Regions from separate parts of the Homo sapiens genome. Here regions 1, 3, 4, 5, 6 and 7 are each reported to be linked to region 2. Evidence: microRNA targets listed by miRTarBase, many of them from high-throughput screens and not tested one by one. Region 2 holds a microRNA gene; each other region holds the end of a gene's coding sequence. Distances are between the middles of the regions.

Evidence for each region. The annotated mature microRNA hsa-miR-4786-3p reads UGAAGCCAGCUCUGGUCUGGGC and lies in region 2 at 2,456-2,477, opposite strand. An mRNA with a match to its seed (bases 2 to 7 or 8) in the 3' UTR can be bound and repressed. Matches are read on the target gene's strand: a 7mer-m8 pairs with bases 2 to 8, a 7mer-A1 pairs with bases 2 to 7 and ends in A, and an 8mer does both.
Region 1: the mRNA of ZNF207 is a reported target of hsa-miR-4786-3p. Seed matches in the 3' UTR shown: 7mer-A1 at 682-688, 7mer-m8 at 812-818 and 8mer at 2,596-2,603.
Region 3: miRTarBase lists TMEM201 as a target of hsa-miR-4786-3p. The part of its 3' UTR that is shown has no 7-base or 8-base seed match.
Region 4: miRTarBase lists ANKRD26 as a target of hsa-miR-4786-3p. Seed matches in the 3' UTR shown: 7mer-m8 at 825-831.
Region 5: the mRNA of VMA22 is a reported target of hsa-miR-4786-3p. The part of its 3' UTR that is shown has no 7-base or 8-base seed match.
Region 6: the mRNA of GARIN3 is a reported target of hsa-miR-4786-3p. Seed matches in the 3' UTR shown: 7mer-m8 at 729-735.
Region 7: miRTarBase lists FAM83H as a target of hsa-miR-4786-3p. Seed matches in the 3' UTR shown: 7mer-A1 at 2,543-2,549.

What each region holds. Positions count from the first base shown.
Region 1 is chr17:32,369,163-32,373,226 of GRCh38, forward strand. It overlaps ZNF207 (zinc finger protein 207), which reads left to right. Exons shown (of 12, transcript NM_001098507.2): 11 at 133-292; 12 at 437-4,064. The coding sequence ends at 597. Among named protein-coding and RNA genes, the nearest start is that of ZNF207, 21 kb to the left of the region's middle.
Region 2 is chr2:239,940,568-239,944,644 of GRCh38, forward strand. MIR4786 (microRNA 4786) reads right to left here and starts at 2,527; the gene lies at 2,448-2,527. It also overlaps a transcript of NDUFA10 not described here.
Region 3 is chr1:9,612,739-9,616,738 of GRCh38, forward strand. It overlaps TMEM201 (transmembrane protein 201), which reads left to right. Exons shown (of 11, transcript NM_001130924.3): 11 at 248-2,139. The coding sequence ends at 345. LOC124903837 reads left to right here and starts at 1,926. Exons shown (of 2, transcript XM_047436734.1): 1 at 1,926-2,734. The coding sequence starts at 1,926. RefSeq lists enhancers at 2,687-3,231, 3,241-3,300.
Region 4 is chr10:27,002,190-27,006,266 of GRCh38, reverse strand. It overlaps ANKRD26 (ankyrin repeat domain containing 26), which reads left to right. Exons shown (of 34, transcript NM_014915.3): 34 at 544-2,151. The coding sequence ends at 677. Among named protein-coding and RNA genes, the nearest start is that of FAM238C, 62 kb to the right of the region's middle.
Region 5 is chr2:130,335,421-130,339,497 of GRCh38, reverse strand. VMA22 (vacuolar ATPase assembly factor VMA22) reads left to right here. Exons shown (of 5, transcript NM_032357.4): 5 at 266-1,565. The coding sequence ends at 378. It overlaps TRE-TTC1-1 (tRNA-Glu (anticodon TTC) 1-1), which reads left to right and starts at 2,299; the gene lies at 2,299-2,370. RefSeq lists an enhancer at 2,512-2,571.
Region 6 is chr5:157,158,931-157,163,007 of GRCh38, reverse strand. GARIN3 (golgi associated RAB2 interactor family member 3) reads left to right here. Exons shown (of 2, transcript NM_130899.3): 2 at 1-1,162. The coding sequence ends at 561. Among named protein-coding and RNA genes, the nearest start is that of GARIN3, 5.3 kb to the left of the region's middle.
Region 7 is chr8:143,722,587-143,726,663 of GRCh38, forward strand. FAM83H (family with sequence similarity 83 member H) reads right to left here. Exons shown (of 5, transcript NM_198488.5): 5 at 1,347-4,077. The coding sequence ends at 3,335. Among named protein-coding and RNA genes, the nearest start is that of MAPK15, 8.3 kb to the left of the region's middle. RefSeq lists an enhancer at 537-1,038.

The DNA.
Region 1 (4,064 bases), not on the chromosome of region 2:
AGTAAATAGTTGGGATGTAAGGGTAAATTTTTGAAAATTACTCTTAACGTTGTAAGATTTTAGATGCATGCCTTTATGCTTGGTGAGCCTCTGCATTCGAGTATTTAGCCCTGCGCTTATTTTTATTCCCAGGAAGAGAGAAGGGCACAGTTACCTAAGTATCAACGTAATCTTCCTCGGCCAGGACAGGCCCCCATCGGTAATCCACCAGTTGGACCAATTGGAGGTATGATGCCACCACAGCCAGGCATCCCACAGCAACAAGGAATGAGACCCCCAATGCCACCTCATGGTATTCCTCTTTTTATGTTTTTCATATTTAGTGGATTTTCTAAGTTCACGCATAAAATATTAAATTTATCTGCAGCATACGTTGCACTTAAAAGTACAATGCGTTAACAATCTATTTTTTTGTGTTTGAAATTCTTGATTTTAGGTCAGTATGGTGGTCATCATCAAGGCATGCCAGGATACCTTCCTGGTGCTATGCCCCCGTATGGGCAGGGACCGCCAATGGTGCCCCCTTACCAGGGTGGGCCTCCTCGACCTCCGATGGGAATGAGACCTCCTGTAATGTCGCAAGGTGGCCGTTACTGATCTTACTTCATCCAGTCTAATAGGTTTGGAGATTAAACCTTTTCTCAACTTGTGCTGTTTATATAGCCAAGCTTCCGTCAATAAGGCTTCATTGTGACTTTAACAAACATTATCTTCCCACATACCAGGAACTATTGGACATTTATTTTACATGGGAAAAATTATTTGGAATAATAAAGCAGGAACTTTTCCTGAAGTTGCAATTTATACTGTATGGCTTCTTTTTCATGTTTCATCTAGGTTTTTAGAAGTGAAGTATAGTAAATTTGGTTCGTTAAATTGTGAAGGCGCTGGAATTACATGAACATACCACCCTAGTAAAGGCAAGTTCTGTAAGCTTACATTGCTATTTGTAAAGTTTGCCTTCACAGCATTTCAGATGCTGTTGGACTTCATGTCCCCAACCTAGCTTGGTGAGGGCTGTAACTGTTTCCAAGTACTTGTACATTGGAAGTCTGAATGTGTAACAATATTTAATGTATTTAGAGTTCCTCATGTTGCAGGGTTTAAGAAATCTGACCCACCAAGGTCATGTGACTTTTCTGTACTGTTAAACTTCATTGTAATAAAATGAGAGAAAAATTTATGCCTTTTTATTCATAACCCAGCTGTGGACCACTGCCTGAAAGGTTTGTACAGATGCATGCCACAGTAGATGTCCACATAATAAAATTCATAGTTACCAATGCAGTTTTGATATATCATTGGATTCTGTCTTTGAGTTGTAGGTTATTTCTTAGCTGCATGTTTTAAACTGAATTTGCATAGAGTTGTATGTTAATGTTTCAGTTAAGAGAAAAACTTAAGATACATGAGTCATTACATAATGGGTATGAAATCTTTATAATCACCCTTCCACCCTCTATGGTGTCAGTACACATCACGTGTCATAGATACTTAAAATGTAAATGTTAACACTTTTCCTTCCTGCTGAGATGTTTAGAGCCTAGTGCCAGACCCATTCATTTCCTTTTGATTATTTTTGAGACTCAGTACTGCATGGACCTCAGAAGCTTTTCAGGTGCAAACTTCTAGAAGCTTAGGTGCATGCAGTAATAGCTTCTTGTGCTGTTAATGGGTTATTATATATTATTCTAAGTGTAATGCTGAGAATCTAAATGTGTCTCTGTTGGGATGGTTAACAGATGAATTGGCAATTTTTATTATGTTCCTGGAAGATTACATTATTCATTTGAGTACCTTCTGTTATTAAGCCTAGGTAGCCTTACTGTGCAACTTTTTATTTATCCTTGGAAATTTTGAATGTTGTGTTCTTACAGAGAGCTTTTCTGTAGAGATGACTGCTATTCAATATTTTGTGTTGCAACCTCTTAAAATAATAGCTCTTGTTGACCTTTTTGGGATCTGTTTTTCTGATCTTTTGCAGGGTAGTTTTATGATTTTTTAGGCATCAAATAACCTATGCAAAGTATTAATATAATGAACTCAAGTTGAGTTTTTCTCATTATAAAGTTAAGACTTCTAAGAAAATGGTAACATTTCTTTATAACTTTCCTGTGAAGGTATAGATAAAACACATGAAGTCTGAAGTTGTATGGAAAAAAGGGCTTTAACTTTGAAGGAAAATATATTGAAAAGTGATTTAGCCATCACAAAAGAGTTCGTATTTATGTGACAGATGAAAGTCATACCTTTAAGCAAAACATTGCAAGTATTATAAAGCTGAATGCTATTTTAACTCACATTGGCTGGGTGCAGTGGCTCACGCCTGTAATCCCAGCCCTCTGGAAGGCTGAGATGGGAGGATTGCTTGAGTCCAGGAGTTTGAGACCAGCCTGGCCAACATGGCAAAACCCCATCTGTACAAAACATTTAAAAATTAGCCAGGCGCGTTAGTGTGTGTCTGTGGTCCCAGCTGCTCAAGAGGCTGAGGAAGGAGGTTCTTCCTCCTTCCGAGGCTGCGGTGAGCTATGTTCACTCCAGCCTGGGCAACAGAGCGAGACTCTGTCAAAAAATAAATTAAAATATCTGATTATCTGGCTTCAATGATTTTGGCTCCTGTGCTTGTGGTACCATAGTGGTACAAAAATTTTCATAGTTTGAAAATAAAACAGGTATTTTGCCAGTAATGTATTTCTTTCTGCCAGCAGCCAAGTCCCAAACCACTTTCCCCTCTGAACCTCTGCTTACCTAAATGGTTTCAAAATTAATACATGCTGCTTTGATTTGGCAGCACACTTAATATACTGCTGAAGGAAAACTTGTGTTGAAAGTCTTTAAGATAAAAATGGTGTGATAGGCCGGGCGCAGTGGCTCACGCCTGTAATCCCAGCACTTTGGGAGGCCCAGGCGGGTGGATCATGAGGTCAGGAGATGGAGACCATCCTGGCTAACACGGTGAAACCCCGTTTCTACTAAAAATACAAAAAATTAGCTGGGCGTAGTTGCGGATGCCTGTAGTCCCAACTACTCTGGAGACCGAGGCAGGAGAATGGCGTGAACCCGGGAGGCATAGCTTGCAGTGAGCGGAGATCACACCACTGCACTCTAGCCTGGACGACAGATTGAGACTCCGTCTCAAAAAAAAAAAATGCTGTGATTAAATTTAGAATAATTAAGTAAGGGGTGCTCTCCCAAATTCTCAGGAATTTCATGTATACGGTTATTGACAAACTGCAATAGGGTTAGTAGACCTGTTTCAGAAATTATGTGAAGCTTTATTTGCATTTTATGCAAAGAAGGTTGATACTTTGTAGCAAGGTTTTTTGCTCTCTGTATAGGTCTGATGGGCAAAAATGGAACTTTTAAATATGGGATAGAATTCTAATTAAAAATTAATTGAAAGTGTTAGGCATTGGCAGATAAAACTTAAGCTCATGAGTTCCTGAGTTTGTAGCTATAGGCTCAGAGGTGGTGTACCCATTTAATATATTTGAAGTGTAATTTTTGCATGCATCCAAACGTAATTAAGCTTCTAGAAAATACCTTTTTTCTAAATGCTTCTGGGGTCCATAGTGTGGTTGAATTATGAGTGGAGCAAATTATATTCATATAATTAACTCTGACTCAACCTTCCTTAAGTAGTAGATGAAGTTGAGTCAAAGTGGATGCCAACTGCCCTCACAGAAGACAACTTTTGGGACTTGATAATTCAGGCAGGCATTGTGATTGTCATAATTAAGGAAGCTGTAAGGTTAGTAGGGCTGGCAACTTTGGCTCTACCTTACATCCACCCCTTTTAGAAAAACAAGAAAACATTTTGTCTGGCACTAGTTTCTGTTGTATAAGTTTTCATACTGTTTAACAAGACCACAGCAGGTAAGGATTAATTTTTGAGTGGCTGCTGGAATTACTTGATTTGAATACTTAGTATTTTAGTAGTGTCTCACACATTTGCCATTAGGTATGAATAAAATATTCCTACTGTACTCCTATTCCACTAAGTTACATTTTGAACTTAGACTCACCTTAATTAAACTTAATTAATTGGGGAGGGGGATTCCCCA
Region 2 (4,077 bases):
GTGTGTTAAAAGCTAATTTTCAGAAAAAAAGTAAAATCATGACTCTCATAGAAATATAAAAAGGAACACATTTGAAATTTAGTCTATTCACTTATCAAGGAAGGTATCAGACAGATGTTATCACCAGTTCAAAACAGAATCCAAAGAATAGCCACACTTAGAGATCAGAGATATTTAAATCAATATGCAAGTGAAGGCAAACCGGGCTCTCTCCTGGGGATGGGAGGTATTCACTGGATTTCCACTATACAGCACAGAACATTCCCGTCTATATGAATTCTTTTGTACTGCTATCAGTGACCTACAAGGAACAGAGTTATAAGATAGTTCTAAATGATGACAGAGTAGAATCCAATAACCTTGAGGAGTGTCCTCTAGGCAATGCACAGTTTTCTGTGAACCACAGATATTCTTCTCCATGTGTGAGGTTCTTCCTGCAGCACTGCAGGCCGTCTGGGTACCCACCACCCAGGAAGGGTAAGCGAAACTGGACAGCAGCAAGGTCACTACAAGGTGCAGAAACAGGCAAGCCAGATGCACCCACGGCAACAAGGAAGGAGCTTACAGAGGCAGTGTTGAGTGAAAACACACAGGCAATAGACGTATGACCCATAACCATTTACGTTCCTTAAAAATGCAAACACACGAAACAACACATTATGTCAGAACATATGCAAACAAAAAGATCTCTCAAGCACAGGGAATGCTGGCCTCCCTGGACAAGGGCAATGGGAGTGGCACATAGGGTAAAGTATCTTCACAAACAGGGACAGACACTTCCCACGCCCGATGATGTGAATGCACCGGGGGCACAGAACTGCGGCTGTTCCACCCTCGGTGTCAGAGGTTCCTTCCTCGACATCAAAACGACAAAGTTCAAGGACGTGGTGGCTCACACCTATAATCCCAGCACTTTGGAAGGCCAAGGCGGGCAGATCACCTGAGGTCGGGAGTTGGAGACCAGACTGGCCAATATGGTAAAACTCCATCTCTACTAAAAATACAAAAATTAGCTGGGCATGATGGCGCACGTTTGTAATCCCAGCTTCTCAGGAGGCTGAGGTGGGAAAATGATTGAACCTGAGAGGCGGAGCTTGCAGGGAGCCAAGATCGCACCACTGCACTCCAGCCTGGGCAACAGAGTAAGACTCTGTCTCAAAAAAAAAAAAAGAAAAAAAGGTTCAAGGAAGAAAGGAAAAAAAATTCCAAATTCCTCTCTTCAGAAAAACCATCTACATCAGTGAACAACATCCTGATATTTTTATGCCTGTATATCAACAGAAACACAGGTATGCTTTCATGAAATGGGATCTATCAATGCTATTTTAAATTACATTTAATTTATTTTAATATCAGTTTTCAACATAAGCAAATGAAAGTAAAACTAGTGAATTTTCTGCACCAAAACAGTATGGACCTTAGATTTTAAAATCCTCTGAAATGAGAAAAACAAATGGATTCTGCATATTGAAAGATCACACCATGTGTGCACAAACTATTTCACTTGGAATCACTTTGGTCTGAACACCAGTGATTCTTTTGCCGGACTGCCTTTGTCCACCTTCCTATAAATTAGTTTTACATATACAAAGTTCACAACAGTTTTCATCCCTCTACCACGTTTACCTTTACTTACTGTGGCTGTCTTCAGCCTTTCCTCTAGGGCAGCGGTGTTCACGCGGTAGTGTGCGCTGCAATCACCTTGCTAAACACAGATGCTGCTGGGGCCCACCCACCAGGGCGCCTGAGCCAGCAGGCCTGGGTGCAGCCTAGACACCTGCATTTCCGACAAGCTCCCAGGTGGAGGCTGGGGCCGCTGGTCCAGGAGCCACACTTGGAGAACGATGGATTTCTGTCAATAGCAATTTCAGCCTTGCTATGTCGTTTGTTGCTGTTTGAAATGTATTGGTTTGGTTCTGACACTGTTTCGGTTCTGTTTGCTTCCTGAGGTCTGACATCTTATTTTCATTTCTTAGTCTTATACGTTGTTGACATTTATTTTATTGAATTCATGTTCTTATCAAACTGTTCTCTTAGGCAAAGCACAGGAATATTTTTTTTTTCTGTTCACGAGCTGTGCGTCCTCTGCCTTCCGCATGTTTATCTTGCGCATGCTGTGGTCCCTTCTCCAGCACTGAGTCACGGGTTTCTCTGTGGGACGTTTGCCTGTCACTTGCCCTCCCCTTCCCTGCCTTTCCATTCTCTTCAAGCCCGAGCAGCTCTGACTGGGTCCTCATATGTTTTAACACAGCACTGGAGGGGTTTTAACTCTTTCCACAAAACCTGGCAAAGGCTCGTCTTCCCCTCTTAGCCACAGGAAGCCCAGGCAGTTTGTGTTCAGGCCACCTTCGGGAAGCCTGCAAGGATGGTGGTGGCAGGAGGAGCTCAGCCGAAGTGGAAGAAGGTTCGTTCAAATGCTGAGGCTCTGCTCCTGCTTCTGGAATCCTGTGAAATGGCCCAGACCAGAGCTGGCTTCACCTCATCACAGGGAGAGTGGTGCATCCAGTCCTGGTCTCAGGCCATGCCCACAGGCCAACGCATCCCTGGAGCCTCCACTTCTTACGGAGAGTTTCAACTCACAGTTATCTTCCCATGTCTGCCAGAGGCATTGCAAGACTCCCTGTCTCCAGATCCCAAGCACAGAGGCGGCCTGGGGCTCCGCTTGTGTACCAGTGGGACTCAGGCTTGGTGGCAGGTCAGAGCCACACGAATCTGCCTTCTGCTCTACTCTGAAATCTTTTGCTTATTTTATTGGCTACTAATTTTTCTTTCTTTTTTTTTGAGATGGGGTCTCACAGTGCCACACAGGCTGGATGGAGTGCAGTGGCGCAATCAGAGCTCACTGCAGCCCCAATTTCCTGGGCTCAAGTGATCCTCCCGCCTCAGCCTCCCAAAGTGTTGGGATTACAGGCGTGAGCCACTACACCTGGTCTTTGGCTACAAATTTTCAAAGTGTATGGCCTTGTTTGTTTTCTGCTGGGATTATTTTTCTAGTTTTTCCTTTCTATTCTGTTAGGGACTGGGGGCAGGACACTGTGATTCCGCTTAATCCTGCTGTCTTTGACATTTTTTTAATGTCCATGAGCAGGGACAAATCTTAGTCTCATAAGAATGTGCCTGATTTGGGAAGCAGGCCTCACTCAGCACCGACCGCCCCTCCTGGCACAGCACTGGCATCCCCTGGTGTTCCATAAACACAGAGACTGAGAGATGAGCAGACGAGTATGGGCCCTGGATGCTCCCTGCAGCCCCTCTGCAGAGCTGGACCTGCAGTCCAAGACTCCTTGGGGATGAGGGGTCTAGGGTTTAGTCCCTGTCCCTGGACAGTGATGGAGCTAAAGGCATGGGGCAGCGTCTGTCCCTTTTATGGGGGGAAGCTGAGGCTGCTGGGGGCAGTGCCTGTCCCGAGATGTCCCCAGACTCAGGTGCTCTGCTCCTTCCTTCCCATAAATCCTGGGCCTCCCCTGTGTCCTAAGGGCCTGCGGCCACCTGGCTAGTCCTGTTGCTGGTCCTCCTCCAGGTGCAGGGCACCGGTGCCCGCAAAATGAGCCACCCTGCCCCTGACCACTGCAGCCAGGCCCCTGAGAGGAGGCACATGACTCAGCCCACCCCCTCCTGGCATTGTTATCCTCCTGCCAAGATCCTGAGGCCATGCCAGAAAGGACCTGGGGCCAGCCTAGACCTTTCCATCATTTCACGTAGGCAGCAGCCTTGCCAAAGTCCCCGGGGGCAGAGCGGCTGTTTGGGTCTGGCGTCTGCTCCAGCCTGGCGTCCCCCATGCTGAGTGTGGCCCCAGGGCCAGCGCCGCAGGCTGAGATCCCAAGGCTGCATCTCTGGCTCGGACCTCTGGTCACGGCTCAGGCTGGGTGCCTGGCTGGCCACCTCCCCTCACAGTGCTGTCAGACTCTCAGTGAGCTCATGGCGGGAAATGATTACCTTTCCATGTGAATTCAGGCCGGGTCTGGACAAGTGAGGAGGTGCACTTTCCTCCACATCTGTTTGAAAGTGATTTTCTTCATGGAACTGGCAGCGCGGATCAAGAAAAATGACTCAGAACCGACAAAAACTCCAGGTCTT
Region 3 (4,000 bases), not on the chromosome of region 2:
GCCCATGGCCTTCCTGGCGGCTCAGGGTTAGGAAAAGCTGTGCCTTCAGGGAGGCAGGGAGTGGGGGTCTTTCCTGCTAGGGAAGCCTTTGGCCAAGAGAAGAATTGGGGGTGAGCCTCACCAGTCTCAGAGAGTACCCTGGGCAGAGCCTTGAGCTCCCCACAAACTGCATGCTCTAGGGGGCTGCTCAGCTGCACAGCGAACCCACCCACCCAAACAATGTTCTGACCAGGTCTCTGCTTTGCAGGTCGTTTCGGCCCTTCCCTGGTCCGGGGCCTCCTGGCCGTGAGCTTGGCCGCCAACGCCCTGTTCACCTCGGTGTTTCTGTACCAGAGCCTGCGCTGACCCACCGTTGGAGCCCCTCGGAGGGGAGCAACCCGGTGCCTGCTGCTTCACCACTGCCGGCCTCAGGACCCTCCCTGGAGGGGCTGCCACCTCTGCCCTCATCTCCAGGGCCTTGACCTCACTGGACTGTGACTGTCCTCAGGACACCTGCCCCTCCTCACCTAACGGACTGCAGGGCTGAGCATGTGTCTGAGGTCACACTCTCTGCCCACTCACCTCCTTGGCTGACATCGGTTGTGTTTGGTGCTGACACTCTGATCCCGAAGCCAGGGAGCCCCAAGGGGCTGCATGACCCTGGGGTGCCCCACACAGTTCAGCCCTGCCTGGCAGGGACGCCAGTACTACTGTAACTGCAGCAGGAGCTGCCCGGCCTGCCTTCTGGCCCCACGCCCACAGGCGTAGTCACATCTTTGTACTGTACTCCCCTGTCTCACCTGGGGCAACCTCAGAGCCCCACTAAGCTGAAGGCCCCCTGGGGGAGGGGGAAGCATGGTCCTTATCATCTGCCCTATCTTGCCCCTTCCTGTGGAGTGGGCAGAAGGGCTCCCGGGATCCTCAGAGCTCCCAGGTCTGAGCAGCCAAAGGCCCAGCTGGGCCTCCAGGACCAGCGCGAGCCCCTGCCCCACCCTCCCCTGCCCCATGTGCCCTGCTTTGTGACCTCTGTTGACCTTCCTGGAAGCAGCCCCATTACCCTGAGAATGCGGAGCGCCCTGGCCCACCTCGCCCTGTGTTTCCAGGCCTGCACGTCTGGTCCTTCAGCTGCACATGGAACTGCAGGGCAGGCTGGCGGGGGGCCTTCAGATCTCAGATGAGACTGCACCCCTTCGACCACCCTACTGGGCACCTGCCTCCAGCCCCTGAGAACTCCATCTTCCCCTAGTTCTGCCCAGGAGCCCCTGAGAACCCCATCTTCCCCTGGTTCTCTTGCCCACTCCCCTGCTGGGGCTCCTTCCTGGCACTGAGGAGGGGCGCTCCCAATGCTGTGAGGCAGCGGGGAGGGACCGTGCACCCGTGGCTATCAGAGCCCCTCCGCTGTCCCACCCTGGGCCTGGGACACGGGCCTGGGGCAGTGTGTGTCTGCTGGTCATGTGCTGGTGCCAGTTGGGGAGGAATCAGCTGTCTCGGTGGATTCTGAGACTCACTGTGGGGCGGGAAGAAGGGTCTTCACTCTGCCATTCAGGGATAAAGTTTAATTTTATTTTTCTACACATTTTGCCAGGTCAGGCATTTTGCTAGTAAGCAGGATGCCCCCAACTCTCCCTGCCATGGAGGATTCTTTTTTTTAAGCTTTGGGTGCTTTTTTAATACTTTTTTTTTTAATGTGGGGAAGGAGCTTGCTCTGACGTCACCCTCCTCTCCCCTGACTCCTGTCCTGAGAGCTGTGGATGCCGCCTCCTGCCCTGCCTACCCCTGAAACGTGGGGAATGGGGGCCCCAGGACAGCATCAGGACTTTTGAGTCCAGCTGCCAGCAATGGTTCCAACTCGGAGGCAGCGCCTCTTGGTCCCCATTTCTGTATAGCAGGCGTGTGTGTGTGTGTCGAGGTTTTTTATTTTTTGCTTAATCAAACTCCATTCCCAAATGCACTCCATCTCTGGCTCTGAGGGCGCTCCCTCCTCTCAGCCGGGCAGCCTGGCCTCTCCTGCCCAGACCTGCGGTCCCAGCATCCCCCAGAGCCAGGGAACAGGCCCAGCGGGAGGGGGTTTTATGTTTTGTTTCAAACAGAAAACACAACCTTATTTTTCTTTACAAAAGCAAAAAAGGAAACCAAAAAAGATACAGCCTTTGAATGATGCCTGCTGGCTGTCTGTATTCGTTTGCTTGGGCAGCTCGGGCCTTCCAGGTAGGGCAGGGTCCCTGCTAAGGGGGCTCTCATCCACTTTCTCTTTCCTCTTCAACGGGGGGTTCTGGAGTGGGGGGCTCGGGTTGGGGTGGCCACAGTGTGACCAGACAGTGTCCCTGGAGGGGCTTAGGGATTTGGACAGGAGACTCGCTGCCTGGCTGAGCCTGGGCCGGAAGGACACCCCAGAGTTTGCTGCGCAGAGAAGGGTGTCCAGGCAGGAAATGCTCAGCTCAGCTCTTCAGAAAAGCCTGAGCCCACCAGCCATCCCTGACCGTCCTTGCCCCTGGCTGCAGGGACCACGGTCAGGTTGTGAAAAAGACCTCGTCTTCCTCAGAGAGGGCTTAGAGCTGCTGCACGGCTCCATGCTGAGGCGGCGGGGATGGGGAATGGCCAGGGTGTCACAGCACAAGCTCTGGGGTCACCTTTCTGGTGACTGGGATCTGCATTTCTGTTGGCTTCAGTTTGACACGGGAGTAACAGGACGGCCATCCGGGGCTGATATGGGGACCCTTAAGCCACAGCACAACGCAGAGGGAGCTCTACCAAGGTGGGCTGTCATTCTGGCCCAGTGCCCAGCGGGCAGGAGGACCACAGCCAGTGAGCAGGGGGACCGGCTCCCAGGGGCCGGCAGGACCAACCTGAACCAGACCCTGAGGGCAGATGAGGGTGCAGGGCTGGGACGGCTTCCCATCAGGAGCTTCCTGCAGCGGGAGCCACAAACGCCTCTGAGCTCACTGACCTCGGGTCCTCAAGATGTTGGGAACATCATGTTTAAACCTGAGGCTCAGGCTTCCAGCAGCCCATTCAGCTCCTACCCCGGCCTGGCGAGGAGAGGCCAAGTGAGGGCAGCAGAGAGCCAAGCGCCCTCAGCTGTGAGGTTCTCCCCAACTTGGGAGCAACAGTAGTAACGCCATCTATGGTTTTCTTATCAAAAGGTAACACATTTATGTAGAAAACCTAGAAATAGAAGTGAGCAAAAAAGAAAATGCCTCATAATCCTGGCATTAAGATATTGGCATCTCTTCTTTGTGGTGGTTTTGTTTGAGACAGGGTCTCGCTGTCCCCCAGGCTGGAGTGCAGTGATGCAATCATAGCTCACTGCAGCCTCAACCTCAGGGGCTCAAACATTCCTCCTGCCTCAGCCCTCCCAGTAGCTGGGAATACAGGTGCACACCACCACACGCAGCTAATTTTTGTTGTATTTTTTGTAGAGAAGAGGTTTCACCATGTTGCCCAGGCTGGTTTCGAACTCCTGAGCTCAAGCAATCCACCCACCTCAGCCTCCCAAAGTCCTGGGATTATAGGTATGAGCCACTGTGCCTGGCCAGAATCTTCAGTAGAATAATTCACCTCTGAAGGATTATCCCAAGGGCCCACTGCAGTAGCTCATGCCTGTAATCCCAGCACTTTGAGAGGCCAAGGCAGGAGGATTTCTTGAGCCCAGGAGTTCAACAGCAGCCTGGGTAATACAGTGTAAACTCGTCTCTGCAAAAACAAGAAAATTAGCTGGGGCCGGGCACAGTGGCTCACACCTGTAATCCCAGCACTTTGGGAGGCCGAGGCGGGTGGATCATGAGGTCAGGAGATCGAGACCATCCTGGCTAACAGGGTGAAACCGCGTCTCTACTAAAAATACAAAAAATTAGCTGGGCGTGGTGGCGGGCGCCTGTAGTCCCAGCTACTCGGGAGGCTGAGGCAGGAGAATGGCGTGAACCTGGGAGGCGGAGCTTGCAGTGAGCCGAGATGGCGCCACTGCACTCCAGCCTGGGCGACAGAGCGAGACTCCGTCTCAAAAAAAAAAAAAAAAAGCTGG
Region 4 (4,077 bases), not on the chromosome of region 2:
CTTCCTCAGCTCCAGCTCTTGGCATTTGCTTCTTCCTTCCGTCTGGCATATGTTTTCCTTGTACTTCAGGTATCAGTCTACATATTGCCTCCATCAAAAAGCCTACGTTATTGACTCAGAACTGGGATAGGTGTCCCTTCTGTGTGTTCCAGTAGTGCCCTGTCTTATACCTGTCATGATATCTGTGACTTTGTATGGAAATTGTATGTTTGTCTGTTTTTTTCAGATTATAGCATATGTTTGTTAGAGGTGGATCATATCATCTTCATCTTGTAATTCTAGTGCTTACTTTGCTCATGGTTGTTGAATAAATGAATGAAGAGTGAGAAAGCCAGAAGCTCTGATATTTAACCACAAGGATAATTAATTCAGTGTGCAACCATGGGCAAATTATATTTAATAGTAATATTGTATAATAGTTGTGCATACATATTTTTCTTTCTTATTAATACTGACAAAATTCTCAACTCTTTTACTGACTTCCACTTAGTTAACTATGAAATCTTTTAGGTAAGGAATATAATTCTTTCTTTTTCATTCTAGCTGCTGCTGAATTGGAATCTGGATCAATAGCTTCCCCTCTAGGGTCTACTGATGAGTCAAATCTAAATCAAGATCTAGTTTGGAAAGCATCAAGAGAATATGTACAGGTTTTAAAGAAAAATTATATGATCTGAAAGATAAGATTTTATTACTGGGCTGTTTATGTGACATTTTGTTTCTCATTAAATATTAATATATGACATGTAAAAATATTAAAGGAACGTATTTTTGTATCATATATGTCAGATCAAAATTTATATAGTATTTTAAACAATGTTACTTGGCTTCTTTAACTTTTAAGTGGATTTTGCCAATGAAAACCAGGAATATTGAGTTTTACATACTCAAACTGCCCAAATGTGAGCTGTTTAAACAGCCAAACCACTAAGTTGTCATTAATACTTTAGTGCAGTTAATTGATGGCTTATTTGTATTTTGTAATTTTTATCACTATATGTAGTGGTAGATGTCTAATTGGACTTAGACATCATTTTGTTGTGCAGGAACTGTGGTCATTGTTCATGTTTGGATGTATTACAATTGTTACAGTGCCATCAAATTTACATAATTTTAATTTTAAGCACTGATTTATATAGCTGTTCTCAGGGAGAAACAAGATTTGCCTGATTCACCTTTTCTGTTTGTTTATTTATTTTTAATTAACCTTTTGGAAATAGCCTTCAGTTTAGAGAAAATTTCGAAGTTTTAGTACAAAGACTTTCTCCTCCGAACAATTTGAGAGTAAATTGCTGACATTATGTCATCACCCCTGATTACTTTAGTGGGCATTCCTACAAGTCAGGACATTCTACATAACTACAGTGCAAACCTTGCAATCAGAAAGTCAACATTAATACATTCTAGTTTGTTACTTCTCTGTAATGTCCTTTATAGCAAAAGGATCCCATTCTAATCCATGGCTTGTATTTAGTTGTTGTATCTGTTAGATCTTTCAGTCTGGAACAGTTCCTCAGTCTTTCCTTGACCTTCATGACCTTGAATATTTTGAAGAGTAAAGTCTGGTAATATAAGAATGTCCCTCAATTGGGTTTCATGGTGATTAGATTTAGATTATATGATTTTTTGGCAGGAGTATCACAGAAGTGACCCAGTGATCTTCTCATTGCATCTTACCTGTGACCCTACAGTTTTGATTTGCCCTGTTACTGGTAATGTTAGCATTGATCACTAACAGTGGTATCTGCTGAATTTCTCCTCTGTAATGTTATTTTTTCACCTTGTGGTTAATTAGTATTTTACAGGGAGGTAATTTGAGACTATGTACATATCTCTACTCCCCATCGAACCCTCAATTTATTCATTTGCTTGTATCAAATAAACCATGGATTCATGGTTTATTTTATTCAGTGAGTTATAATTCATTAATATTGTTATTAAAAATTTGTTTTTCTTTTAAGAAATGTTATATTTTGACAACTTCAGACTTACAGAAAGATTATAAGAGGTAGTACAAATAATTTTTGGATATTATTCCCCAAATGTTAACATTTTACTGCATTTACTTTATCCTTTCTCCCCCTTCTCCTCCTGTCTTTCTAGATGAATATGAATATAGGTACTTAATACAGATTTTTTTTCTAAACTGTTTGTAGGTTGCAGACACGATGCCTCTTTATTTCTAAATAATGTGTATTTCCTAAATAAAAGGAATTACCTTACATAACTGTAGTATAATGGTCAAAATCAGGATATTAACACTGGTTCAATGTTAATATCTAATCTATAGACCTTACGCAGATTTTGCCAATTGTCTCCAAAATATCCTTGATAGCCGAGGAAAATTCAAGATGGGGGATTTTCACCAGGTGTGATGTGTTGGTCCAATTGTTCCGTTTCTATAGTCTCCTTTTATCTGGGATAGTTCCTGAGTCTTTCTTTGATTGTAATGACATTTATGTTTTTGGAGAGTATAGGTCAGCTGTTTTGTAGGCGTTCTCTCCATTTTGGTTTGTACAGTGTTTCCTCATGATTAGCTTTAGGTTGTGCCATTCGGGCGGGGCTTTCACACAGGCTGAGTTCTCTGCAATGCAGCATCTGGAGGCATCTGCTGTCACTCACTTCCATTACTGGCCAATGTTGACTTTGATTATTTGATTTGTTGAAATAATCAAAGTCAACATCCTGCCATGTTTGTCCATGGTTAAGCTACTATATACTTTGTATTTCATAAATATCTTGTATAAAGATACTTTGAGGCTTTGTAAATATCTGGCTACTACTCAGAACTTCACCCACAAGATAAAGCATTTCATTGGTGATTTGTGCTTGAATCAATTATTATTATGATGGTTGCCAAATGATGACTTTCTTATTCCTTCATCCCTTCTATATTGATAAATAGAACAAAATCAGTGAACAAATAGGGGGAGAAGGGAAAGCTTACTAATTTGGTGTTCAGATGCCCCCTGGACTTGGCCAGTAGTAGCCATTTCAAGCTGACTTTGTGTCCTTCTGACCTGTCCCCCTTATTCTTTGAGCACTTCAAGGGTCAACTGTATTTTTAACTTCCTTTTCTGACAGCAACCTGGCTCCCTTCATCCTGAATATATATTAAGTACTCATTTAATGCCGTCGATAGGCTTTGGAATCTGACTGTAAGTGAAATGACATATAACAGAACCAATTTGGCATAGGCTAAATGATACAAATAAAACATAACGTTCCTATGACATATTGTTGGTCACAAAAACATCACTAATCTTCTAAGTAAAGACCCCAAAACATGAATACTAAACATTGAAATAAATGTGAGCTCTACATATATTAGGAAAGATTAATTTAAAAAATTAAGATACTACCCAATTTTGGGTGCGTCAGTGAGTGATAGTGGTTGTAGTGGTGGTGCTGTGTTAAATCAAGGAATAAATGTTGCAAAGTGAAAAAATTGTCAGGAGCACCTGCTGCCATCATGCAGCTATTTGAACACTATTTTTGTGTTCAAAAATAGTCACAAATATGGCAGGCTCATGGAGCACTTTCATACCACATAATTGTGTACCACAGCATTTGTGTTATGACCATAGACCCTACAACATTTTATTTTATAGTAATTTGCATTCATTCATTCCTTTCTTAACCTGCTTATCCCAGTTCAGGGTCACACATGGTCAGAGCCTCTCCTGCACTTAAGGGTGCAGGGTGGGAACCAGCCCTGGACAGGACATATCCCATTGCAGGGCCACTCACATACACCCACCCTCACTCTAACTGGGACCATGTCATGACGTCAGCACATCAGATAACCTAACATGCCCAGCTTTGGGATGTAGGAGGAAACCAGAATACCTGGAGGAAACCCACGCAGACAAGGGGAGAACGTGCAAACTCCACCCAGATGGGGCCCCAGTTGGGAATTCTTTCTCTCCTCAGCATGACAATGAAATGATGTTGTTCAAGAATCTGCTGTATTTACTGATTTGTTCAATCCTCTTGTGTGTAACCAGTCTCTTGTGTCCCGGCCCCTAAGCAGCTGTGCTTCCCACTCCCCCTTGGACTCCAGCACCCTTTATCAGG
Region 5 (4,077 bases), 110 Mb from region 2:
TACTATCTGTGAATTTTTAGTTCCTGGTGGGTGATATAATGGGTCCAGGAAGTCTAAGGAGGTGACATTTTAGCAAAGACCTGAAGGAGGTGTAAGGCCTCAGAGGTTCTGGAGCAGCCAATGCAGGGCCGTACCTGGAATGTTTTGGGACAAGTGTGGGGGGCAGAGAGGCCTGAAGCCTTTCCAATTTCTGGGGATATCCAGATCCTCCTGGGTCGTGTGTTACACTACAGATACCATGGTGACCTTCTCTCCTTTCCTCCAGGCCTGCAGCTGGCCGCAGACATAGCCAGCCTCCAGAACCGCATTGACTGGGGTCGAAGCCAGCTCCGGGGACTCCAAGAGAAACTCAAGCAGCTGGAGCCTGGGGCTGCCTGACATGCGCGCAAAGAGGCAGGGCAGCGAGCACAGCTGTTCTCCGACATGGCTACGTGATCTCAGGCCTTCTTCCTTCACAATTAGCTCTTGCCCCTACCCCACGCCAGCTAATGCCCCTTCTGTGTCCCTGCTCTGCATGTTTCCATTTTCCTTAGGTGTGAAGTTTGAAGAGGCAAACAGTAATTTTGAAAGCCACTACTTTGAAACCATTCTAAGGCCTGAGTTCCCATAGGACACACTCACATAGGCAGGTACACGTTAGTCAACAATTGGAACTGCCTCTTGGATCACTCAGCTGTGCTTTCATGGCTGGATGATGGAACACTGTGCGAAGAGAGATGGGGGCCAGGAAGTAGCGCTTCATGCTTAGTACATCCTCCAAATTGTCTTTGCTGGAGGAGAAAACCGTACTCAGCCAAAAGATCAGGACAATATGACTTGAGTCCACAAGGACACAAACACCTGAGTAGCTGGGCAGCCCTTGGCAGGGTCTAAGCCAGGAAGTAAAAATGATCTGGCCTAGATATTTAAGGGAACTCTAGGAAGAGGCCTAGGTTTTTAAAATCCTGTCTCTTTGTCTTACCATAAGAGGCTGAGCCTCTCTTCATTTTTTTGAAGGGCCACTTGTGTTTTCTGTTCTGGGAACTTCATTCATTTTTCTACTGGGTTGTTGATCTTTGCAGTAATTTCTAGGAGCTGTTTATGTTTGGAGGTAATTGGTCCTTTGTCCATATATATGAGATGTAAGTCTTATTTTCCAGTTTATCTTTTTGCTTATTTTTTTTGACTTTTTATTGTAAAATAAAACATCAAACTGCACAGAACAGTTGAATAGCTTAATGAATAACTACAGTAAAAGCTATGGTAACCACTACCCAACTTTTGTGTTTTTTGATCATTATTTGTACGTACAGTTGAATGTATCCAGCTGTCACATGATTCTGAATTTGGGTTTGTAACTGATAAGGCAATCAGGGAATTCTCCAGCATTTTCAAGAACCTCTGTGGTTTCAGTTGAAATGTCCAGTGAGTCATGTCCAGCTTTTCCACCATCCTCCCACGTGCTGTATGTCGGTTAATGCTGCCCTTTTGTTTTGCTAACTCCCAGTGTAAACCTAATGTAATTTGGGGGTTTTCATTCTGTTTCGTGGACATTACTGTCAATACACCAGTACCACATTGTTTTACTTCTTGAACTTTAACATAATCCCTGTATGGCAGATTCGCGTTGGGTTGAGGGGTCGTTTATTGGCCCTGTTGACCTTGAGTTGCCAGGGAAAAGACTAATGGGGGAACTCAAATGGAACCCCTGTGACTGCAGGAAAAACGGGTATCTGCCCCCAAACCTCACCAAAGGTTGCCTTTTGTAACAAAGATCCTATCCACAAGGTTCCAGTTAGTGAGATTCTGAAGCCAAAGTAAGGAAAAAAATAAGTCAATTTTGCTGGGGCCACAAATTCTTCCAGGAGGAGGTGCGACCCCGTGGAGCACGCCCTTCGCTGCTGATTGTGGGCGGACACTGGGGTGGGCACGTGCCTCCCACTGCTGGCTTGGGGCTGGACTCACAGGTGGCCATCCTCCTATCAGGGCGAGGCCATGGGCTCTGCAAATAGGGTTGGATGAAGACAGCAAATCTTTAGCAAAGCATCCTTAACTTGCTGCCCTGACCTTCTGCCCTAACTCCAGCTCTTGGGGAGACCGCCAGGAAAGGGGATTCTGGCTTCTGTGGGGAAGTGGCTTGTCCCACCAGGGCTAAGTCGAGAGACTGGGTTCATGCAGCGAGTCTGGCACGGCTGCAGTCATACGAGTTTCTACAGGGACAGCAGGAGCTCAGTGCTGCGCAGTGGTAGTTGGGAGGCGCTGGCGGTGAAGCTGACGCATGTCACGTATACAGACACGGTGGCGTCACCTTTCAGCAGTTCCCATATGGTCTAGCGGTTAGGATTCCTGGTTTTCACCCAGGTGGCCCGGGTTCGACTCCCGGTATGGGAACAAAAGTGGCTTTTTTTTTTTTTTTTGCGGGTGTATATTTTTTTCTTTCAACTTGAAAATGTTCGCCAGAAGAACTTTGACTTTTCGCCACTAGAACGCTCCAGGCCAGATTGGGTATTTCCTCTTCACTTGAACTTGGAGAAACAGGCCCAGGGAGATCCGGGCCCCATCGCTGTGTGTTTTGATGGCAGTGACCATTTTCATCATGACATTAGCTAGTTGTTTTGACCATCAATAGCTTACTGAGTATATTAGATGCTATATACATCGCAGATGTGAATATTAGAAGTAGTGAAATGCCCGATAACATTGAAAATATTCAAAATGTGTTGCTGTGGAACCCCCAGCAGAAGGCAGATCCCCACTGGCCTCCATCACGCTCCAGCGCACTTGCTCAGGTTGGCAGGAGCCACCTCGGGTCCGTGAGCTGCCTCTGCAAGGCAGGGATAGGAAGTCCTAGGAAGTCTACTGGGAGCATAGCACTCTGGAAAAATTTACCTTTCTCTCTTGCTGCTGCTTTGTTTTGTCCAGTAGTCAGGGTTCCCGTTTTCTCACTGGGACAGTCCGGGCTTGACTCCACTCCCCCAGCAGAAAACCAACTTCAAACTTCAATGATGCCTTCGTGCCAGCACACAAACACATGTCCGGTGGAAAGGAGAACCCAGCTGGGTGAGGCGGCAGCTTCAGTCCCAGCTACTAAGGAGGCTGAGGCTGGAGGATCGCCTGAGCCCAGGAGGTTGAGGCTGCAGTGAGCCGAGGTCATGCCAGTACCCTCCAACCTGGGCTACAGAGTCAGACCTCTTAACTAAAAAAGACATTGTTTTTTGGCTTGCTCAATTAATCCAGGGAGATTGTATGTAAGGCTGAGGTCATGTCTTCAGCAATTACTGCCACACTCATTCATTCATTCATTCATACCTTTGTTTTTTATAATTATCACTAGTAAGCATACCAATGAAAATTTTTGTTCTGGCACATAAAGAGCTTCAAAATCATCACTTCCATCCTTACAACAAGAAAAAAGCTGAACGAACTGGAAAATCAACAACTCTTCGATTCCTCAGAAAATTGAGGTCACGTGGCAAACCACTCCCCTGAAAATGAGAAGGAAAGGCAAATACAGAGCTACAGCTTGCCAGGCACAGAAGCTGCTGCTGCAGCCAGCAACCTGTAGGAAAACTTAAAGGGTAACTGACTAACTGCTAGAGCCTGGGCATGTAAGCATAAGAGAGAAAAGATGCTGGGGACATAGCCTTAAGGGGCCCCCACAGTCTCATGGGTTTTAGCTCCAGGAATTCTATCTTGTTCTTGGGTGAAAATCAGAGAAAAATCTGCTGGAGCTTCTGGCAAGGGGAGGAAAGTGTAACCACTTTGAAATGCACACATAACGTCCTGTCCTCTTTAACAAAGGCTTAAAGTCAGAGCAACTACCAGAGCCTACCCAACCCAAGGGAAGGAAAATATCCACCTCCAGTCTGCTTTAGTCTTCCAACTCACATTAAAAAAAAGCTGAGAAGCACTTGTGAGTGGCACAGCCTAGGGACCACTGGTTCACAACAAGACTGGGCCCTGATCATGGGTTTATAGACCACTCCCTGCTGTCCCCACATCTTACTGCCACATCACTTAGGGCTCCTATATATTAACAAGGGATTGCAGCTGAAAGAACTGCAAGGCCCAGAATTTATGTAAGAAGCAGTCTCTAGG
Region 6 (4,077 bases), not on the chromosome of region 2:
CCCAGTGCTGAAGTCTGGAATGAAAACAAGGAAAGAAGAGAAAAGAAGGACAGACATCCCAGTAGGAAAAGTTCTCATCACCGCAAGGCAGGTGAAAGTCACCGCAGGAGAGCGGGGGACAAGAATCAGAAAGCGTCTTCCCACCGGTCCGCATCTGGCCATAAAAACACGAGAGATGACAAAAAAGAAAAAGGGTACAGCAACGTAAGGGGCAAGCGACATGGCTCCTCTCGCAAGAGCTCCACCCACAGCTCCACCAAAAAGGAGTCGAGAACAACTCAGGAACTGGGGAAGAACCAATCTGCATCTAGCACAGGAGCTTTACAAAAGAAAGCCAGTAAGATCAGCTCTTTTTTAAGGAGCCTCAGGGCCACTCCTGGTTCAAAAACAAGGGTCACATCACATGACAGAGAGGTAGATATCGTGGCTAAGATGGTGGAGAAGCAAAACATAGAGGCCAAAGTGGAGAAAGCCCAGGGTGGCCAGGAGCTGGAGATGATCAGTGGCACTATGACATCCGAGAAGACGGAGATGATCGTCTTTGAAACCAAATCCATTTAAAGAGGAGCCAGGGCTACAACCGCCCAGGGATCTGGAAGTATCCCTAGAGGAGCCCATCCCAGCTTTCTTTACTGCAGTTCAAATAATAAAGGAAATCGTACAACTCCAAAAGAAATACAATCTCCTGCTTGAATTTTTCTGCCCATAGCCTGGTGGTGACCTCACAGTGGCTTCTGTGATGGTGGCTATGCTACAGCTGGAGACCCCAGCCTCCAGGCAAGTAGAGCTCCACCACCCGCCCACGGCCAGCAGAGCCAACGTGAGTGTTCAGCTTTGCCTCAATCCCTTTTGCTTCCCCGAGACTGTCAAAGCCACAGACTAAGAGCTGGGATGCATGGCCACCACCATGTCCCCTCGCCCATTCTCCTCTTTTCCCTGAATGCCCCTGAACATGGACATTCAGTCCAGTTCTTAGCCTATGCAGAGACAGGATTCACATCCCCTCAGGGGATATTCAGGGTAGGAAGGAGCAATACAGCAGTATTTGTAGGCAATTAGAATAGGAAATCTATTCTTCTAGATCAGGAATTGGCAAATCATGTTCTGAGGTCCAAATCTTACCAGCTGCCTGGATTTGTAAATAAAGTTTTATTGGAACATAGTCACAGACTTTCCTTTGCATATTGCCTATGGCTGCTTTCACGCTAAAAATGACAGCTCTGAGTAGTGGCAATGGAGACCATATGGCCCACAGAATCTAAAATATTATCTGGGCCTTTAAGAAAATGTGTGCTGACTCTTGATCTAATCTTAACAAGTCTTCCTCCAAGGTGTAGACAGTGGAGAAATTCTCACATATGCTTACCAGTAGACAACTAGGAGAATGTTTACAGTAAAACAAGTTGTAATAGCAAAACCCTGGAAATTGCCCAAATGTTCATCAAACAGGAGAGTTAATAAATTGTGGAATGGACTACAGTGCATAATCTACAATAGTGAAAATGAATAGCAGCTATACATGTTAGCATTGATAAATGTTTATTTTTTATTTTTTTGAGACAGAGTCTCAGTTTGTTGCCCAGGCTGGAGTGCAGTGGGATAATCTTGGCTCACTGCAACCTTGGCTGCCCAGGCTCCAGTAATTCTCATGCCTCAACCTCCGGAGTAGCTGGGATTACAGGCATGCACCACCATGCCCAGCTAAATTTTTGTATTTTTACTAGAGACAAGGTTTTGCCATGTTGGCCAGGCTGGTCTCGAATTCTTGACCTCAAGCAATCCGTCCTCCTCGGCCTCCCAAAGTGCTGGGATCACAGGCATGAGCCACCATGTGTGGCTGGCATGGATAAATCTTACATAATGTGGGATACTAAAAGCAAGTCACAAAAATATATATGATATAGTTCAATTTGTAGAACAGCTCAAAAATAAGATTCAACAATGGGATATATATTTGCTAAAAGTATAGAGAAAAACAAGGAAATGATAATCACAAAATTAAGGATAGTGACTATCTATAGGATAAAGGGAGAGATGTCTGATCTGAGGGGCACACACAAGGAGTTTCAACAGAATAGTGATTATTCTATTTCTTAAAGAAGAGGTTGTATTCATGGGGTGTTGTTACTGTATCTTTATTTTAATATCTCTGAAATCAGGATTGTTTTTAAATCTGTCAGCAAGGTGTCAATTGCATGTCACTATCACTGCCTTAGAAATGCCCTAATCAATTTATTTCACCAATGTTTTCCTTTTTACACATACACATGACAGATTTATGACAGAATATCTAAGTCTGAAAGATCTTTCAATAAGCATGAAATAAAAATTCTAAGTGACATAAAAAGTATTCAGAAACACGGAAAAATGTTTAAATATATTAAGAAGTAAAATAGTCCAAAATGCTGTGTACTAACATGATGTAAATTATGTGTTCGTGTGCAAGTTAATTCCCAGAATAAAAAAATCACACTACATTAGAAATGGGATTATAAATTTTAAAAACCTTTACTGTAAAAAAAAATTGTCTTTCCGTTTTTAAAAAACCTGTAAAATGAGTCCATGGAAAACATTAAATTATTAACACCAAATAATAAAATTTGGATTTGAGAAAAATGATTCTGGGAGCCATGTAAGTCCAGGAGGGGAGCACCTGCCCAGCCTTGCAAGTCTTTGCTCATTCTCTGCAGCAGCAGTACCTTGGAGGACAGAAGTTGGGTTTCCGGCAAAACTTAGGGACCTTTTCTGAACACCAAATATGTGTAGCCAAGATGGAGGAGGTGAGAAGCGACGTATTCTGGGAGGAGCGGTGGCTTGTCAGTATCAGGGGAATCCCTTCTCAGTTGCTCTAGTGGGTGGCTGGAAAATCTCATCTTGTGATTTTTGATAAATACCATAGAGGCTGAGATTAAGATGTTCTGGGAGTTGACTCTTGAAACAGTGGGTACAGGTAGAAGGAGAGAGAAAGAGAGAGAGGCACATACTCTAAAGTCTGAGAGGGCCTTTGGGAAAGCCACCCGGGAATGTGAAAGGTTGGCAGGTGGGGTAGAGGAGAGAGATAAAAGGAAACTCCTTTCAAAGCCTTTGGTCTGGAGTTCCAGGTTTACAGCTATGCCAGAGTCTGAATTATCCTAGCTACAAACGGTTTAATCTCATAATTGTGTAGACTATGGCTTTATCTTTTGTCTTTCTTCTAGTCTTGTTTTATACACCCTCCCCTGTCTGAGGGCTTCTTCAGCATGAATATAGTTTATCCACCCAAATGCAATTTAAGTAAAGTAGAGATGGGGACTTGCCCACCACAGCGTGCTGTGCCATGCACTTTCTCTGCATTTCCTTTTCTATCTTGATACTTCATCAAGAGATAGATGCATAAATACCTATGTATTTCAAAGCAACAGGCCTCTTCCTCAGAGGGAGTTATCAATTGGGGCATCAAGTCAATACCCCTATCAGATAAAAGCCAATATTTTTAACGGCAATATTTGTCACCATGGTAACAATTCTGCTGCTGCAAGTGCAATGAGACAGTGGATGGTCGATTACTAACCAATGTTCCAAACTTAAAGTCTGGCATTACACACATAAGAACAAAGATGACAAAGCGATATTTTGCCAAAAGCAGTATAAGATCACTCATGCAGTTGTCATGTTAGGGTGGAGTCTTTGAAGCAGAGGAAACTGGTCTATGGTGAGAAGAAGCAAGGTGCCTCAAAATGTCAAATGCCATCATGGCTGGCAGGGCAAGAACGGAAGGCGAGATGCTAGAGGGAGCAGCAGGGGACAGACTGTGCAAGGCTTTGAGGTTCGCATATGCTACTTTGACTTCTGTCCTTAGTAATGAGAAGCCACTGAAACATTTTAAGTTGAGGAGTGACTTGATCAGATTTGTATTTTGTAAAGGTCACTGTAGTTGCTGTGAGAAAAAAATATTTGGGAAGGTAGTTGTTAATATGTGTCCTTATGTAATTCCTGTCTTTTGCTGCAGGATCTATAAAATGAGATTACAGGAGATGTTTTGAAAGACATGTTCCCATTAGAAATGTCCATGTGATGGCTGGGTGCTGTGGCTCATGG
Region 7 (4,077 bases), not on the chromosome of region 2:
CCCAGAGCCCAGTGCCGCCCCCTAGAGGCCCTGCCCACTGCACATCCAGCACTGGGCTTTTCCCTCCAGGTTTGCCTGGGGCAGCTTCTTGTTCTTTGTCCATCATTTCCTTACCTGCTGTGGCTTCAGGGTCCAGGCTGCCCCCCAGGGTGGTCCTGTGGGGTAGGGATGTAGGGTCACCCCCTGGCCATGTTTGTGACTCTGAGCCAGAGGAGAGAAGGGGAGAGAGAAGGGGGACACCCCTCCCCCTGCTGTCAGGGACTGCAGCCTGCGCCCCCTAGTATGGCCACTGCACCTGATCTGTCTTCAGGTCTCCGTAGGTGAGGGTGGGAGACAGACATCTCGCGAGGTCAGGGTTACCTCCTCTTGTCACCCCCAGGCAAGGTCCCTGGTGTGAGTTCAGGCCAGGGCTGTGCAGGGCTGCAAAGATCAAAGGGGCCCTGTGGGCACAGACCTGTGTCCTAGGGTGCCAGGTGTCCTCAGCTGCACCTGCCCATGGGTTGGGGTTGGAACACAAGGAGGCAGCTGGAAAGCTCACAGGCTGGAGGAGCTCACAGTCTAAAGGGCGCGGCCTGTGCTGTCGGTGGCGGAGTTGGGCTGCCAGGCTCACAGTCTGGGAAGCTCATAGGCCGGAGGAGCTCACAGTTTGAAGGGTGCGGCCTGTGCTGTGGTCGGTGTTGGGCTGCCAGGAGAGGGGCGCTGCTGGGTTGTGGAAGCCATTGCCACCATGGGGGAGGGCGGGGAAGGACAAGATGTGGGTGGGGGAGCTGAGCAGAAGGTGAGAGCTGGCGCTGCCCTGGTGCTGGACCAGGCACCTGCAAGAGACTCAGAAAGGGAGGCTGGGTTTGGGAGAAGGTTGGAGGAGGCGGAGGAGGGATCGGGAGGGCCCGAGGAAGCGGTGAGCCAGTCAGAGACCCAGCCCAGGGGCTGTTTCCTGAGGGGGCTGCCGAGGGAGGTGCTTGTTGAGCTTCAAAAGCCCAAGGCGCAGGCCCAGGGTGCTGAACAAGCAGGACAGAGAGGCTGTGGGAGAGGAAGCTGCAGAGAGGCCACGGGGCTGCAGGGTTGGAGGCTTGGCCTCAGGCTGGGCAGTGTGTGGTGGGGCTGCTGAGTGGGGAATCGCAGGTGGGCACCCAGGAGTGTGCCTGCACAGGGGGCATCGGGGACAGGGACAGGAGAGCAGCGTGAAGTTGGGGAGGCCAAGGTGGGCCTTGGAAGTGGAGCTGGGGGGTCTTTAGTGCCCCCCACAGGGGTGGGTGGTGGGTCCACAGGGGAAATCTGGGAGGCCACGTGGTTAAAGGCTGCAGGATGTAACTGGGCGATTATACACACTGGGGAACATGCTAGAATACTTTGTGTGTTGTGTTTTATTAACACCAAAATGTGCCACATCATGGTTTAGAAGAGGTGGAGGGTGCAGGCAGGAGGCTCCGAAGGCCCAGGCAGGGCCGCCAGCCTCTGGCCTCTCCATGGACTCCAGCTGGAGAGCCTGTCCGCTCAGCAACACCCCAGGCAGCACCAAGAATAACATGCCCACAAGAACATCATGGCCAAGAGACGCACAGGCGCATCCCGCTTCCAGGCACCTTTCCCACCTGGCCAGAAGTCCCTGCTGTCATCCCGACTTGCACGGTGGTTTTGGTAACCAGTGGGCTGTGCAGGAGTGAAAGTGGGGTCACTTTCCTTCCTTTCCCAGCTGCTGGAGTCGGAACTGCTGCCTTTGTTTGGCGGCCTTGTTTCTTAAATCAGTTCCCTCTTAGGATTTATTACACTAAAAAAAAAATTAGTTTTTGAAAAGAAATAGGAGAATACAGAAACATGAATTTCACGAGGCTATCATCTAACAGTGGGGGCTTTCTACACACGTGGTGCCAAAATGTGTCATTCTGAGTCAATTGCAATTCCTCTCTAGGAGTGAAAAGAGATAAAAGATAAGCCAAGAACCCTGGACAGATTCTTGGTGTTGGTGACAAAGAGGAAAGGACCTGAGAATGGGGCTGGTGGGGAGAGGGGGGTGTCTGCTGGATACCAGGAGGACAAGGACCACTCCCACCTGCAGGGGTGCCCAGGACCTAGTTGGGCTCGGCCTCAGCTGCACCTTGTCCCCTGCCCTCACCTGGCCCCATACCTGTCAAGGATAAGCACTCCACAACCAGCCCTTCTAGCGCCTGGCTTGGGCCGGGCCTGTGCAGGGGGTGCTCATGAGGCCGGGGCCACAGGTTGTCTGGACCATGTTTTACTGTGCTGCAAAGGCCAATGCCCCCTCCCCACTCTCACCCAGTGCTGGCCAGAGCCTCGCTGGAGGAGATGGCAGACCTGGCCAAGGCGCCCCTTCGGGCTTCCCTGTGTCCCGTCCCCAGAGGCCTGCCCTGTCCAGCTTCCTTGCCACTCCAAGGGGCATCTTCTGGTCCAGCTCCCCCCCCCCTGCCCCACCCACCCCTTGCAAACTGCCCGCAGCCAGCCCAGTCTTCCCCACAGCAAGAGACGGGCCTCCAAAAAAGATGCTGGGAGGCAGCGAGCAGGAGAATCCAAGTAGGAAAGGAAGTGAAGCCCAGGCGGGGGAGGGGGGAGACGGGGGGGGGGGGGGGGGAGGGAAGGAGGAGACCTTGAGAGAGGGAGGGAGCGGGGAGGGGGGAGGCCCTGAGAACAGGAGGCCCTGAGGAGGAGAAGGGCCCAGAGAATGAGGAATTGAGGCACAGAGGCGAGACCCTTGCAAGAGGATAGGGGACTTAGCGGGGTGCAAGGCTCACGCCTGTAATCCCCCCACTTTGGGAGGCTGAAGCGGGCTGATCATTTGAGGCCAGGAGTTGGAGACCAGCCTGGCCAACATAGTGAAACCCTGTCTCTACTAAAAATACAAAAACTACCTGGGCGTGGTAGCATACATCTGTAATCCCAGCTACTCAGGAGGCTGAGGCAGGAGAATCGCTGGAACCCGGGAGGCAGAGGTTGCAGTGAGCCCAGACCGCTCAACTGCACTCCAGCCCTAGGTCTCAAAAAAATAAAGGGGGCGGGGGGGACTGAGGCACAAAGAGATGGCGGAGCCAGACGCTGCGCCACGCAAGGCTGACGGTGCAGAGATGAAGGTGCTGAGGGGAGAAAGGCACTGGTGGCGAGGGGTGCAGCCCCAGCGTTGGGGAGGCCAGGGGGCAGAGACGGCAGCTGCCAGGTGAGCCTCCAGTGGAGCCGAGGTCTGGCGCACTCAGCCAAGCCCCAAGCGGCCGTGGCCTGACAGCCGCTGCTCAAGCAGATGAGCAGGGCTCTCTGTTCCGCGGGGCTTCTGGATGACCGGGGCAGCGATGCGGGCACCCTGGCCTGGGTTGCCAGGCCAGAAGACTCACTTCTTGCTTTTGAACGTGCCCAGGATCTTGGGCACGAACTTGCCCACCTTGCTGTCCCTGGTGCCCTCCTCCGCGGGGCCTTCCCCTGCCCCAGGGCTGCTGGCCTCCTCTTTCTTGCAGAAGACCTCGAAGCGGCTGTACACGCGCTTCTCCTTGCGCATGCTCTCCATGCGGCGCAGCAGCCGATCGCGCTCCTCCGCGCTGGCTGGCAGCGTGCGGCTCAGCCGGCCCTGGGTCCCCAAGCTGTCCGAGCGGAAGATGGCTGAACACTTGTCCTTGTCGGACATATCTGGGGCCAGGACGCCAGCAGCCGGTGGACGGCCTAGCTCGGGGCTGTTGTGGGTCGGGCCGGGGCTCGGGGCAGGGACCGCACGGTGCTTCTGGCCGTGGGCACTGATCTGCTCCAGAATGGCCTTCGTGTCATCCCGAAGGTTGCTGCTGTACAAGGCGTTGGCCGTGGCTGAGGACAGGCGCGCCCGCGGACCCCGCTCTTCTGTGGCAGCCTCCGTGCTGTCACCCTGGCCCAGTGACAGACGCCGCGGGCTCTCGGGTTGGCCGTTCTCCTGCGGCACTGGGAAGCCACCCTCATCCTCCATGCGCCGCTCGCCCTTGGGGCTCAGCAGCTGCCTAAGACGCAAGGAGCCTTTGCGCAGGACTTCCATGGGGCCGCTCGGCCCCTCCTCCGCGGGCCCGGCCTTCGGGGACTCCCCGGAGATGGTAAGGGTGAGGCTGCCCCTGC